Homo sapiens: one gene and its partner. The protein of the gene in region 1 interacts with the protein of each later gene in a pairwise test. Each region holds a gene or a part of one and is shown on either strand. Other genes may lie near its edges.

Evidence for each region. The genes of interacting proteins can lie anywhere in the genome.
Region 2: the proteins of SDC2 (region 1) and WFS1 interact in binary tests that used the Homo sapiens proteins (3 or more experiments, as listed by UniProt).

What each region holds. Positions count from the first base shown.
Region 1 is NC_000008.11:96,601,523-96,605,565, reverse strand, and holds part of SDC2 (syndecan-2 precursor), read right to left. Parts: intron 3,172-4,043; coding exon 3,038-3,171; intron 1-3,037. UniProt on the Homo sapiens protein: Cell surface proteoglycan which regulates dendritic arbor morphogenesis.
Region 2 is NC_000004.12:6,300,850-6,303,765, forward strand, and holds the end of WFS1 (wolframin), read left to right. Parts: coding exon 1-1,619; 3' UTR 1,620-2,416; downstream 2,417-2,916. UniProt on the Homo sapiens protein: Participates in the regulation of cellular Ca(2+) homeostasis, at least partly, by modulating the filling state of the endoplasmic reticulum Ca(2+) store.

The DNA.
Region 1 (4,043 bases):
GAGAGAAGGAAATACGACAGGCCTTCCCAGGCCTTCAGGTACCAAAGTAAAGCAGAAGAGAGCAGCTCATTGGCAGTATTTTTGCTGAGATTTTTCTATTCTTCTCATGAAAAGCCCATCATTAATTGGCTGCCTTGTGGAAAGACAGACAACAGGTCAGAGAATGGATTATCTGGGTTCTAGTCTAGAGACCTTTTCACTGCTCATTAGTACTGCTTTACTATTACAAGTTAGAAAAGGGAAGAGAAATCTCAAATAGGTGAATACTCAGGTTTGTGACTAGGGAGAGAGGTAAACAAGTTCTGGTGAGAAATGAAATGGACCTAAGTAGTTACTGTAATATGAGAGACTGAGTTTAATTCATCCATATCCATATCATCTTTGTCCCATTATTATTACAAATCATATGGTTTCACCATGTGATTGAGTCCCTAAAGTCATTTAAGAGAGTTGATCTTTTCAGTTTCCTCTGACTCAGCCTCTGATCCGGCAGGCTGAACAAAGCGTGCAATCCAGGGATCTGAGAGTGTGGGAACTGAAGGACTCCACAGAACTGGAGCCGCCCTGCAGCTGGAGGTGCACAAGCCTCAAGCGGCTCTGGGTGGAAAATTCATTTTTTAAGTCAAAATGTTTTATCGTATGGAAGCAAAGGCTTGACTAAGAAGATACCATTTGGTAATATGGAACTAATCTGAAATACCTTCACTCTTGTATGAATGTATGTGCAAAATGAATCCGCAAAAAGACAGCAGGGATGATTAAATGAGGCCAAGTAAAGATCTGCCACATCCATGTCTGGTTGTTTGGATGCCATGGAAATGCAACAGAAGTAAAAGCTTATGAGTGATGCTCTTCTCAAACAAATAACGAGATTCCCTTTTGTGCATTTTAGTCACTTAAATTTACAACAAACTAGATAGGATATCCGTAACAGTGACATTAATGCCACTGTGAGACCAATTGAAAAGCAAAATCTACACTAATGGTATCCTAGAGGCAATGTTCAATTCGGCTGTACCACATAAACAGCAAAATGAAAAATTTAATCATTATTATTCATGTTATTCATGATCAATATTATCATTATCAGTGCTGCAAACAGTGTTCGACACATAATGAATAGCACTCAACAAATCTCCTATAAATGGATGAATTTCTACTATTACTATATTGAACACAAATGATAGTAAGAATATAAATGTATTAAAATCTTTTGGGCTCCTTAATTTTTAAATTCACCTGCCAAAGTTCTACATTTTTTATCTCGATCTGATGCAATTACTTCCTTAAAACCAATTTTTAAAAACTTAAATTAGTGGTCAATCCATTGCTGTTAACAAACCAGACAGAACTCTATGTCAAATTAAGTCTTGCTTAGGATAGAACTCTCTATCACTACAAGCCAAAACTCACCCAGGAGAGTTGCTTCCCTCAAGCTAGTGAGTCCTAATTGTCTCTGACTTCAGCAGATTTAGTCAAGAGAAGTGGTCAAATAAAAATGTGGTAAGAGCCAAATGCATCTTTAGTAAATAGTAGCTAATTGTGCCACACACACTCTGAGGCAGTCATCGTACCACCAATTGCACCTGCACTTTTCATTTCTCCCTTTCTTTTTTTGTTTCATTCACTCAACTGAAACATTGATACAGTAGCTTTTATGCATGGATCCAGCACATGCCAGGTGAGTCGGTCTCAGTTCTCATAGGGCTCTCCCTGCCTTCCTACCGCCTGGCTTGTGAAGTCTACCACTAATAGTAATTGACCCTTCTTGGTCCTACAGAAAGCACTTCAATTTGGACAGGGCTGGCTTCCTGGCTGTTCCACATCTGCAGAAACCCATCCAGCGGTGCCATTCACCATTCCAGTCACAGGCACTGGGAGGATGGAGGAGGAGGAAGAACAAAGGTACTCTGGGGCAAGGGTAAGAAAAGCCCACATGCATTCTGGCCTGAAGACGGGATGATTCTTACTCCAAGGAAGGCCTGTCGCCACCTTCATCAAACAGCCTTCCATATCCATACCCTGTCTGCTGCTAAAGCTTGGCAGCATCTCATTTCTAATCAACAGATGGGTGAGCTCTAAAAGGGGATGCTTGTGCTTCTGAGTTTTCTTAAGCCATATGTTACCCCTGCACTGATTGCAAAGTCTACCACTACAGTTATTACACATGCTCATTTGGTGAATTGGCTTGGTCTCTTCTGCTCCACCAATTCAATTAATGCTTACAGAATGGTGACTAGGTCTCAGGTGCCATGCTACATGCACTCACATTTCATCTTCTTCAAGGCCCATAGGAAATGGGTTCAGAAGCTAAGAAACCTGACTGGATCCAGGATTTGAAACTTAGGTCTTTGCCAGACTTTAATATGCATGTTCTAACTTCAGTGGGTTACCTATTAGTGGATGGTCAGCTAACTGCAATATTAACGAGGTCAAAATCACAAGCTCCAAGTTTTCATTAGCTGGTCACTTTACTCAGGTCTAAGGCCAAAGACCTTATTCTTAATAAGTCAGCTCTCAAAATGAATATATACAGATGTACCCAGGTTCATCATCATCGAGAGAGGTCAAGGATTACATAGTACTGATGGTCGGCCTAGGAAGACTGAGAAATGACTTAGTGAGACTAGGACCACCTCAAGACGTGACCTGGAGTCTTCTAATTACGTAACCTACAAACCAGGAAACCAAAGAAACAGGGCTTTACTTCTTAACTGGGCTTCAGACGTTCCTTAAGAAGGAGGGCCATGTGAAAAATAGTTGTATATAATTTGAGCCTGGATGACAGAGATTATAAGTGGGTAAATGCCAAAATGATCAAAAAGAGTAAGGAAGAGCCATTTATAACACCACCTGAAGACCATTTGTCCTTACACAATTTTAAGTGGGGTCTTTTAAAAGAACTGTTGTGTACATAGTTCATGATGGGTAGCTCCAAAAAGAAGAAAATAATACAAAAGGGACTGTTGTGTACAGTCAGTAAAGTGAAGCATTTGTAATAACCTGATAATGCAATGCAATGGAAAATAGAACGCACCTTTGTCTGAGCAGGTATCTTGTTCTGTATATTCAGCGTCGTGGTTTCCACTTTTGGAGCAGCACTAGTCAACAGTATCTTTGGAAGTGGTCGAGATGTTGTCAGCTCTGGACTCTCTACATCCTCATCAGCTCCTGGAAAAGTAAGTGAAGATGAACTGAGCATGGCAATCATGACACAGATGTCTCCATTATCAGGCACTATTGCCTGACGTTGACACTGACAGAATCATGTTCTTTCAAAATGCTGGCTCTTTAAGACTTCAGCACAAAGCTTCCTGTGGTCTTCACCATGATGAAGAAGTGATTTCAAAGGTGTCTGTGGGTAGTCTAGCAAGTTTTTCCTTAATAGTATTATCCTGAACATTCAAGTAGCCCTTCTTTCACTTGCATGTTCCTTTTCTCCCTGCTTGACAAGATTTTTTCCCATCTACACTGAAACGTGCTCCATTTCCATTTTAAGAACACAACAGTCCAGGTGCAGGGGCTCACGCCTGTAATTTCAGCACTTTGGGAGGCCGAGGAGAGCGGATCACGAGGTCAGGAGATCGAGACCAGCCTGGCCTATATGGTGAAACCTCATCTCTACTAAAAATTCAAAAATTTAGCTGGGCGTGGCGGCGCACGCCTGTAATCCCAGCTACTCGGGAGGCTGAGGCAGGAGAATCACTTGAACCTGGAGGTGGAGGTTGCAGTGAGCAGAGGTCACACCATTGCATTCCAGCCTGGGTGGCAGGGTGAGACTCTGCCAAAAATAAAAATTAAAAAAACCCACAACAAAACAAAATGCAAACAGGAAAACTCTCCTATGGCTGACTCCTTATTTCATGTGAGTTCCTTGCCCTCTCTCCCGGGTTTTTGTTTTGTTTCTTTTTTTTTTTTTTTTTTTGGAGATGGAGTCTTGCCCTGTCACCAGGCTGGAGTGCAATGGCACAATCTGGGCTCACTGCAACCTCTGCCTTCCAGGTTGAAGTGATTCTCCTGCCTCAGCCTCCCGAGTAGCTGGG
Region 2 (2,916 bases), on another chromosome or scaffold:
TGTCCTTCATCTCCATGGTGATCTGCACCCTCAAGGTGTTCCAGGACAGCAAGGCCTGGGAGAACTTCCGCACCCTCACCGACCTGCTGCTGCGCTTCGAGCCCAACCTGGATGTGGAGCAGGCCGAGGTCAACTTCGGCTGGAACCACCTGGAGCCCTATGCCCATTTCCTGCTCTCTGTCTTCTTCGTCATCTTCTCCTTCCCCATCGCCAGCAAGGACTGCATCCCCTGCTCGGAGCTGGCTGTCATCACCGGCTTCTTTACCGTGACCAGCTACCTGAGCCTGAGCACCCATGCAGAGCCCTACACGCGCAGGGCCCTGGCCACCGAGGTCACCGCCGGCCTGCTATCGCTGCTGCCCTCCATGCCCTTGAATTGGCCCTACCTGAAGGTCCTTGGCCAGACCTTCATCACCGTGCCTGTCGGCCACCTGGTCGTCCTCAACGTCAGCGTCCCGTGCCTGCTCTATGTCTACCTGCTCTATCTCTTCTTCCGCATGGCACAGCTGAGGAATTTCAAGGGCACCTACTGCTACCTTGTGCCCTACCTGGTGTGCTTCATGTGGTGTGAGCTCTCCGTGGTCATCCTGCTGGAGTCCACCGGCCTGGGGCTGCTCCGCGCCTCCATCGGCTACTTCCTCTTCCTCTTTGCCCTCCCCATCCTGGTGGCCGGCCTGGCCCTGGTGGGCGTGCTGCAGTTCGCCCGGTGGTTCACGTCTCTGGAGCTCACCAAGATCGCAGTCACCGTGGCGGTCTGTAGTGTGCCCCTGCTGTTGCGCTGGTGGACCAAGGCCAGCTTCTCTGTGGTGGGGATGGTGAAGTCCCTGACGCGGAGCTCCATGGTCAAGCTCATCCTGGTGTGGCTCACGGCCATCGTGCTGTTCTGCTGGTTCTATGTGTACCGCTCAGAGGGCATGAAGGTCTACAACTCCACACTGACCTGGCAGCAGTATGGTGCGCTGTGCGGGCCACGCGCCTGGAAGGAGACCAACATGGCGCGCACCCAGATCCTCTGCAGCCACCTGGAGGGCCACAGGGTCACGTGGACCGGCCGCTTCAAGTACGTCCGCGTGACTGACATCGACAACAGCGCCGAGTCTGCCATCAACATGCTCCCGTTCTTCATCGGCGACTGGATGCGCTGCCTCTACGGCGAGGCCTACCCTGCCTGCAGCCCTGGCAACACCTCCACGGCCGAGGAGGAGCTCTGTCGCCTTAAGCTGCTGGCCAAGCACCCCTGCCACATCAAGAAGTTCGACCGCTACAAGTTTGAGATTACCGTGGGCATGCCATTCAGCAGCGGCGCTGACGGCTCGCGCAGCCGCGAGGAGGACGACGTCACCAAGGACATCGTGCTGCGGGCCAGCAGCGAGTTCAAGAGCGTGCTGCTCAGCCTGCGCCAGGGCAGCCTCATCGAGTTCAGCACCATCCTGGAGGGCCGCCTGGGCAGCAAGTGGCCTGTCTTCGAGCTCAAGGCCATCAGCTGCCTCAACTGCATGGCCCAGCTCTCACCCACCAGGCGGCACGTGAAGATCGAGCACGACTGGCGCAGCACCGTGCATGGCGCCGTGAAGTTCGCCTTCGACTTCTTTTTCTTCCCATTCCTGTCGGCGGCCTGAGGATGGTCCGCCACGAGGAGCTTCCAGTGCATGTTGCCATGAGGCCTTTCCCCAGTGTGGCCCCAGCCCGACAGGCATGCACCAGTGCCGCCTGTGCCCACGTGTGCAGACTGTGGCTGCAGAGACCTTGCGACCATGTGTAGATTGCGTGGACCCCGACAAAGGGAAGGCTGCTGTGTAGCTCTGTCCACTCTGAATACCAAGTGTGTTGGGAATTGCATGCCATCTCCACCCTGAGCCTGACCTTTCTGAGTGACATGGGTGTGCCAGGCTAGACTAGGAGGTTCCGGTGTCTGGAAAAGCACTTTACAGATGAGATTCCCTCTCCTCCCCCACCTTCAAGCACCCTGTTCCCTCTTTCTTTCTTTTGTGTTGGATTTGTTTAAAAACCAAATAAGCATCTGTGTAACCTCCACAGTAGCATTTCTTATTTGTTTGGTCACTGCTACACCTTAGCAGCTCTTCCCCTTTCCTGGGGGATGTGCACGGCAGCTTGAGCCTGTCACGTGGTCAAGGCCCGGCCCCATCAGAGGCTGGGGGAGGCGGCACATTGGCAGTGTGTCACACTGAGCTGGGCACCACAGGCTGCCTCATGACCCTCCTGTCCAGCAGGTAGTGGGTGAATGTGTGAAGGTCTTGCCTGAATCCATCAGGACTTGGGAAACAGAGAACCCTGTGGGGGCGGCTGTGGGGGAGGTCCCTGCCAGTGTTTAGAAGAGCCTGACTGTGTTCAGTGCCTTGGAGCAGAAAGCCAGGGTCCTGAGTGGCTGAAATAAAAGCCTCTGGTGGAACCTGCAGCGCTTTCCTTCCTTTCTTTACCGAAAAGAAGTCTTTCTTGTACGTGCGTGAGAATCAGCAGAGCCTGCACTCCTGTTGAATGAAATGCAAGTGCAATTTGAGTTATAAAAGAGCAAGGTTGATGTTTCACAGTTGATGGCTTCCTGCCACAGCGAGACCCTGGCTTCATCTCCAGCTGGAGGGGCCCCTGGGGCATCTGCCGTAACTGTGGGGTGGCCTGGGCATGGGCTGCCTGTGCAGAGAGACCTGTGCTGAAGGTGACCATGGAGTGTCAGCCCAGCCATCTTCAGATCTTACTGAGCGGAAAGTGCACGGTCATAATTATCTTTGAATTCCAGTTACCCATGAAGTGGAGCCTACAGGGTGATTGATGGCGTGGGGGCTGCTGTCCATGCGGGAGTGTGTTGTGAAACCACCTCCTGTGTTCCCTAACCTGCAGTGATGACCCCATGGGATTATAATCAGAACTTAGTCATTTGGGGGCACCCGAGCAGCTGCA